Homo sapiens: one gene and its partner. The protein of the gene in region 2 purifies or fractionates together with the protein of the main gene of each other region. This does not show direct contact. Each region holds a gene or a part of one and is shown on either strand. Other genes may lie near its edges. The genes, in order: SEPTIN14 and FIGLA.

The links.
Region 1: the proteins of FIGLA (region 2) and SEPTIN14 purify together in Homo sapiens (affinity purification with mass spectrometry; one large-scale study listed by BioGRID and IntAct). This does not show direct contact.

The regions. Positions count from the first base shown.
Region 1 is NC_000007.14:55,803,489-55,807,311, reverse strand, and holds part of SEPTIN14 (septin-14), read left to right. Parts: intron 1-53; coding exon 54-222; intron 223-1,921; coding exon 1,922-2,054; intron 2,055-3,823. UniProt on the Homo sapiens protein: Filament-forming cytoskeletal GTPase. Involved in the migration of cortical neurons and the formation of neuron leading processes during embryonic development.
Region 2 is NC_000002.12:70,783,821-70,787,643, forward strand, and holds part of FIGLA (factor in the germline alpha), read right to left. Parts: intron 1,820-3,823; coding exon 1,595-1,819; intron 1-1,594. UniProt on the Homo sapiens protein: Germline specific transcription factor implicated in postnatal oocyte-specific gene expression.

The DNA of each region.
Region 1 (3,823 bases), on a different chromosome or scaffold from region 2:
ATTGTCAGGGATTGATACTGAATGTTGTTGATTCATTATTATTTTTTTACTAGTGGAAAATGAAAATCACTGTGACTTCGTTAAGCTCCGAGATATGCTTCTTTGTACCAATATGGAAAATCTAAAAGAAAAAACCCACACTCAGCACTATGAATGTTATAGGTACCAAAAACTGCAGAAAATGGGCTTTACAGATGTGGGTCCAAACAACCAGCCAGTTAGGTGAGTAAAAATATTGCTAGCACAACCAAATGGATAATTTAGGAGTCCCTACAAACACAAGGTATGATAATTTGGATATGAGAATAATTATACTTCTCCCATCTTGAGCCATCATAAAGAAAACACCTGAATGTTAGGTGTTTTTATGATCTTTTGACGAAGGTAGAGATAGTAGGAACAATATAATGCGAGATCTCATTTTTATGCTGAAATATGTGTATTCAATATGTATATATGCTGAAATGTATATTGATGAAAAAACCCAGTATTTTGTTCCATTTTTTGTATTTATATGAAATGTATCTGTATTATGTGAAAGAAAGGATAGGCCGGGCGCTGTGGCTCATGCCTGTAATCCCAGCACTTTGGGAGGCTGAGGCGGGCGGATCATCTAAGGTCAGGTATTTGAGAGCAGCCTGGCCAACATGGTAAAACCCTGTGTCTACTAAAAATACAAAAAGTAGCCGGGCATGGTGGCACACGCCTGTATCCCAGCCACTTGGGAGGCTGAGGCAGGAGAATCGCTTGAACCCTGGAGGCGGAGGTTGCAGTGAGCTGAGATCACCTCACTGCACTTCCAGCGTGGCGGACTGAGCAAGACTCCATCTTAAAAAAAAAAAGAAAAAAAAAGAAAGGATAAAGAAAAAGATGGAAAAATATTAGCAAAGTTTGACAAAAGACATTAAGAAGAGTTTGATGGAGGAACCAGCTGAAAAGCAGTAGTGCAGCATCCTGGAAGTTAAATGAGAAAAGTTTGAGAGCAGGTGTTTGCTCTAACTTGAAGAATAGAGCCGGGTGCAGTGGCTCCCGCCTGTAATCCCAGCACTTTGGGAAACCGAGACAGGCAGATTACCTGAGGTCAGGAGTTTAAGATCAGCCTGGCCAACATGGTAAAGCTCCGTCCCTACTAAAAATACAAAAAAAATTAGCTGGGCGTGGTGGCGGGTGCCCGTAATCCCAGTTAACTCGGGAGGCTGAGGCAGGAGAATCGCTTGAACCTGGGCAGCAGAGATTGCAGTGAGCTGAGATCGTGCCACTGCACTCCAGTCTGGGCGACAAAGAGAGACTCTGTCTCAAAAAAAAAAGAAGAATAGGACTTGTGTTGCAAAAACATGGCACTGTAGTGTATATAATCTAGTTATATCATTCATTGTTCTTTGTAGACACCCAAAATTTAACTATCTTAAATGAATGATGATATTTTGAAAGACTTTTTGCTTTATTTTAGAGGATTTTTGAAAATCGTCTCATACATTAGAGGTTTCCCTGAATGTTATTGTCAAAAGATATGAAAATGTATGATATCCTGGAAAGTGGTGGGGATAAGAATTCACTCATATAAGTGTTGGAAAATTCTAGTATTCTTTACATATACTGTCTATATACTCTGATCTTAAGTATTGTGCCTTGGTTTTTACATCTTATGATATGGAAATTTCCATTTTGTGCTGCTAAACATGAGAGAATGTTGGTAAATTTCCTTATATAGGATGTAACATACAATATATATTTTTTACATGTTTATACTAGTGTGTTTTTATTTTTCATTTTATTTTATTTTTTTATGATGGAGTCTTACTCTGTCTCCCAGGCTGACGTGCAGTGGCACGATTTTGATTCTCTGCAAACTCCGCCTCCTGGGTTCAAGCGATCCTCCTACCTCATTTTAATATAAGACTAAGAAAACATTTCTCTTTAGTTTTCAAGAAATCTTTGAAGCCAAAAGACAAGAGTTCTATGATCAATGTCAGAGGGAAGAAGAAGAGTTGAAACAGAGATTTATGCAGCGAGTCAAGGAGAAAGAAGCAACATTTAAAGAAGCTGAAAAAGAGGTTAGTACTGACAGTTTGATATAATTTGTATTAATTTTTAGGTGCCCTATTAATTTGGGGGTTTTAATCTCAAGAGTTTACTTGATGTTTTTGGAGGATACTTGCTATTTTTCAAAAAGTAGCTTTTTACCATGTAGACTTGAATATAGCCTTTACAAAATTATAGTCTGTAGTGTTTTTTCTAGAGAACTTAATTTTCCCATTTAAATAACCCTGAAGATAATTTTATAAAAATTATGTTTTATTTATAATTTAAATTTTCATGCATAAAGTTTAATTTGTGACAAACCCAAGCTATTTACTCTGAGAAGAGTCTTGTACTGTCTAATGCTATTAATGCACTAGAAAATTGTCTTCACTTTTATAAAAAGCAAATGTTGACTAATGCTGGCCTTGATTAATGAGAAAATTTTAAGTTGGTAAATTATGTTATTCCATGCCATTTCTAATAAAATGGGGAAAAAAGCTATTAATATCGTTTTAATTATTTGCCACAAATACGTTTTTGGTGAAGACATATTTTTGAAACCATAATTTCTTTCTCTCAAGTGTAGGTGGCTTTAGTTTAAGAACATTTAGTTTAATTAGGTAAATTGGAACATAAACTTCCTTTTTCATAAGAACAGAATAGTAGTAATTAGGTGCTATAGGCCAGATGTCTCATTCAAAGACAGTTGAATTATAAGTAATAAAAATTCCAGCCGGGTGCGGTGGCTCACACCTATAATCCCAGCACTTTGGGAGATGGAGGCGGGCGGATCCCCTAAAGCCAGGAGTTCAAGACCAGCCTGGCCAACGTGGTGAAACCCCGTCTCAACTAAAAATATAAAAATTAGCTGGGCATGGTGCTGCATGCCTATAATTCCAGCTACTCGGGAGGCTGAGGTAGGAGAATCGCTTGAACCCAGTAGGTGGAGGTTGCAGTGAGCCGAGATGGTGCCACTGCCTCCAGCCTGGGCGAGAGTGAGACTCCGTCTCAAAAAAAAAAAACAAAAAAAACCAAACCATTAGCTTAGGTATAAAGGAAAAAGTTTGGATGTATACAAGGGTACGTCATGACATCTAAGGACAAGAGACATAGCTGGATCTCATGAAGACTTTTTTTTTTTTTTTTTTTTTTTTTAGACAGAGTCTTGCTCTGTTACCCAGGTTGGAGTGCAGTGGCGCGATCTGGGCTCACCGCAAGCTCCGCCTCCTGGGTTCACGCCATTCTCCTGCCCCAGCCTCCCGAGTAGCTGGGTCTACAGGCGCTCACCACCGTGCCCAACTAAATTTTTTTTTTTTTTTTTGTATTTTTAGTAGAGATGGGGTTTCACCGTGTTAGCCAGGATGATCTCGATCTCCTGACCTCGTGATCCGCCTGCCTCGGCCTCCCAAAGTGCTGGGATTACAGACATGAGCCATCGCGCCTGGCCTCATGAAGACTTAAACCAAAACTAGGAAGTGACCAGAAACCGAAGCAACCATTTAAATTTTCTCTTTCTCTCCCACCTCACTTCCCTTAGTTATGAACCTTATTCCTGTACGTCTGCTTCTTTTTTCTTTCTCTCTGGAGATTAGTTTCTTTTCCATATCTCAACTATGTGTTCTCTTAGGGTTGATTACATGTCTTGATTATTGTCAATTAATGCTGCAATAAACATGAAAGTGTAGATATCTCTTTGACATACTGATTTTATTTCCTTTGAACACATAACTATTAGTGGGGTTGCTGAACCATATGGTTATTCTATTTTCAGTTGCTTAATGAATACCCATATTTTTCATAA
Region 2 (3,823 bases):
TTGAGTGAGTAACTGGGACTACAGGTGCCCGCCACCACGCCTGATTTTTAGTAGCAATGGCGTTTCACCATGTTGGCCAGGCTGGTCTCGAACTCCTGACCTCAGGTGATCCGCCCACCTCGGCCTCCCAAAGTGCTGGGATGACAATTGTGAGCCACTGCGCCTGGCCCCACTCTTTTGTTGTTGTTGCTTTTAGTCATTCCATGTCAGCTCATGTAGTAGCAACAGGAATTCTGTCTCCTATGGGTTGACTGGCCAGCGAAATCTTATATCTCAAGTGGTCAGAATATGAAAATCTACACTGAGCATATGCACAAATGAATCCTAGAACACAATTAATCTAATCAGAAATGGAAGCCAAGGCCGCCCACCACCTCTCTCCCCACCCCTGCCCTGCCCCCACCAGCCAGCAGGAAGCCTGTAGGACCTCAAATCAGAGCACAACATTGGTGAGAGCCAAGTGAGAAAACTCAAAACACTGGCTACAGAGCTAGAATACCTGTGGCTCATTATTGCTCACTAATCAATGTTGATTGCTCATGAGTCAAGAGAAGTTGGTATCTATCCAAGTGACGTGACAGGTATTATGCCAGATACTTTGCTGACATGATATCATTTGGAGTTAGTTATCTTATATACAAGGTAGGTACAATTATTATACCCATTGCTCAGATGGAGAAACTGAGGATTAGAGGCATTTAGTAGCTCATGCAAGATTATACAGCTAGCAAGTGGTAAAACCAGGGTTTAAACCTCAGTAGTCTGTTCCCAGAGCCTACTCTCAACTGCTCGCCTCAACTGCCTCCCTCCAACCACCATCTGTGACTCCACAGCCCCCACTGTCCCTTATATCATACCATGCAACATGTTTGTTACAGCATGCTTACTTCACATTCCTATACACCTTTCTTATTTCAATAGTAATTGTGTTGCAGAGTAGGATAGAGCAGGGGCCTCATTTATGAATACCAGTTCACAGCAAGGGCAAAAAGTCCACTTCTGGACTTGGAGAAGCATGCTGCCACTTCCAGCTGTCTCTTTAGTTGACAAAGTAATAACAGACAATAAACTCCTTTGTTATTTCATTTAAAATGTTGTCTTACAACCAGCACCACCCCCCACCACAAAAAAAAAAAAAAAGTATCACCAAACATGCATCTTTATGTATGGCAAGCTACTTACTTCTTTTTCTGGAGACCATAGAGTCCAGAAAACCTTTTGATGGGTTAAATAGGATCATTTAAAAGATAAACTTAGGTCTGTATTGGGTGGTTCTGGGGTTAAATAGGATCATTTAAAAGATAAACTTAGGTCTGTATTGGGTGGTTCTGGGGTTAAATAGTTTCATTTAAAAGATAAGCTTAGGTCTGTATTGGGTGGTTCTGGAGGAGTTTCCCCTTCCCTGGAGCCGCTTACCAGTTAATTTAGAAACAAAATAATCTCCCAAACTAGTAAACCCCACTGCCCCACCCAAAGGCTTTCATTAAATTATCTTGTTTTAATCATGTTTTAGCATGGAAAAATGACTCATATCTCAAAGTATACATTTTAAGGTTCTGATATCTGTATGGGTATTTAAGAAGGAATATTTTACCAGACTTCTGGTTGGGGAGATAATTTCAGTCGTAGACATCACACTGTGGCGACAAGCGTGTGCTGGCTCACCACTGCCACCATCTGCCCAAGGCCCTTCCTCTTCATTCTTCAAGCCGAAAGCACAGCTGATATGTTGGGTGATGTTTCTTGACAGCTGTCTTGCCGAGGATGTATGTGATTCAGAACTGTTGTTACTATAGCTCTGCTCATCTGGGTCTTGTTTCTGGAAACCATATTTAGTTGTCAAACAGTATAATATGACAGAAAGATTTTGATGACTTAAACTAATATATTTCAAAGTTTTAACTGATGAGGTTTCATTTAAATGATAAGGGCAATGCTTAAGTCATTATGGAGAGAAAAGCATTGTTCAATTGACCGTATTTTGTTCTCCTATCATCTTAAAATGTTATGCAATAGGTAACTGCATTAAAAATATTATGGCATGGAACAGATGGTATGTTTTACAATGAACAAAGCACTTCTGTTACACAATTGACATGCAAGAGAAAACTAAGGTAGCCACCTACACATGTCCAAACACTGTGACCATACCAAAACCCAACCATCCAGTTTGACCAACAGGACAATTCACTCCTGCCATCGCAGAATGTAGCTTCCTAGCAGTCACCTGGCTAGGACTAATGGAGAAGAAAAAAATATTCAAAGGTACTATCATACACCTGGAGATTTCTGCCCCAAATTTCTAGGATAATTGTTTCTTTTCTCTCTAGTATCTCTCCTTCTGTTCCTAAACATGATCAAATTTCTACATAGGAAAGACCTTCACTTGATCTAACAACTTTTCTGCCTTTTTTTTTTTTTTTGGCAGGGGGTGCAGGGAGTGGGGTGGGGGGTGGTTCTTCTTTCCACTCTCGGACTTCTAGGTTTTCTTTTTTTTGGGGGGGGACAGAGTCTCGCTCTGTTGCCAGGCTGGAGTGCAGTGGCGCCATCTCAGCTCACTGCAAGCTCCGCCTCCCAGGTTCACGCCATCCTCCTGCCTCAGCCTCCTGAGTAGCTGGGACTACCGGCGCCTGCCACCACGCCCGGCTAATTTTTTTGTATTTTTAGTAGAGATGGGGTTTCACCATGTTAGCCAGGATGGTCTCGATCTCCTGACCTCATGATCTGCCTGCCTCAGCCTCCCAAAGTGCTGGGATTATAGGCGTGAGCCACCGCGCCTGGCAGACTTCTAGGTTAAATGGACTTGAAGTTTGCCACTTTCCTCTGAATCTGCTTGGATTCCAGATATTTACCAATCATGCACCCTCAATCTCCTCCAAGTTGATGCCCAGCCCAATTCTCTTTCACCTTTCAAGTGCTAGACATGGTGCTTCCCCCAGTCCTGGCCTTCTTCAGCCTCTCTGTAACCTCTCACACTCCTCACCTTTAGTTTCCTAAGGTTCTCTCCTCCTCAACTTTATGACCCCATCTTGTTCCTCTACCTTCTTGCCACATTCTAATGATGATTCCTTCCTCCTACCAACAGAGTTGCTTAGGGCTCATTTCTAAGGCCTTTTCTCTCTTCCTATTTTGTTTCCCCAGATGACTGATTCATTTTCAGCCCATCAATGTTTGCCTTTCCCTGGAACAAGTCCATAAAACCAGTCCACACTTTACTTTGCCTAATGGACACTTCTGAGCTATCTCACTCTCATAATGGTGGTGACATTATGATACTTCACAGTTTACAGGGCCATTTGTGTCATTCCTGCTGAATGGTTGCAAAACCCCATGAGACTGGTATCACCAGACCATTGCTGAGCTCTTCAGTTGGCCTTAGGGAGGGTCTCTCCTAAGAGAGGTTCCTTGGGGAAAAGAAATGCCTCTTCCTTCCTGTGTCCTGTCTGATGTGCATTCTACTGTAGGGAAACAACCAAAGTGCTTTTAGGAAAGCCCCCTCCTATGTCCAGCTGTAGAAATCCTATCAAAGATTCAACAGTCAGGAGCTAGGTGCCCTGGATAGTGACCATAGGCAAGTATAGATGGTCAGGGACTCAACTCTAAAGCTCATGTAGCTCTGGGTTCAAATCCCAGTCCTGACTTTTTCAGAGCTGTATGGCCTTAACTATATTTTGGTTTCCTTCTCTGTCAAATAAGGGTCATAAAAATAGCTTAGAGGTTATAAACCTTAAGTGGAAAGTATACATATATCACTTGGCACAGTGTCTCGTACATAGAAAAGGCCTAATAAATGGTGGCTATCATTATTCTAAAATCTTACACC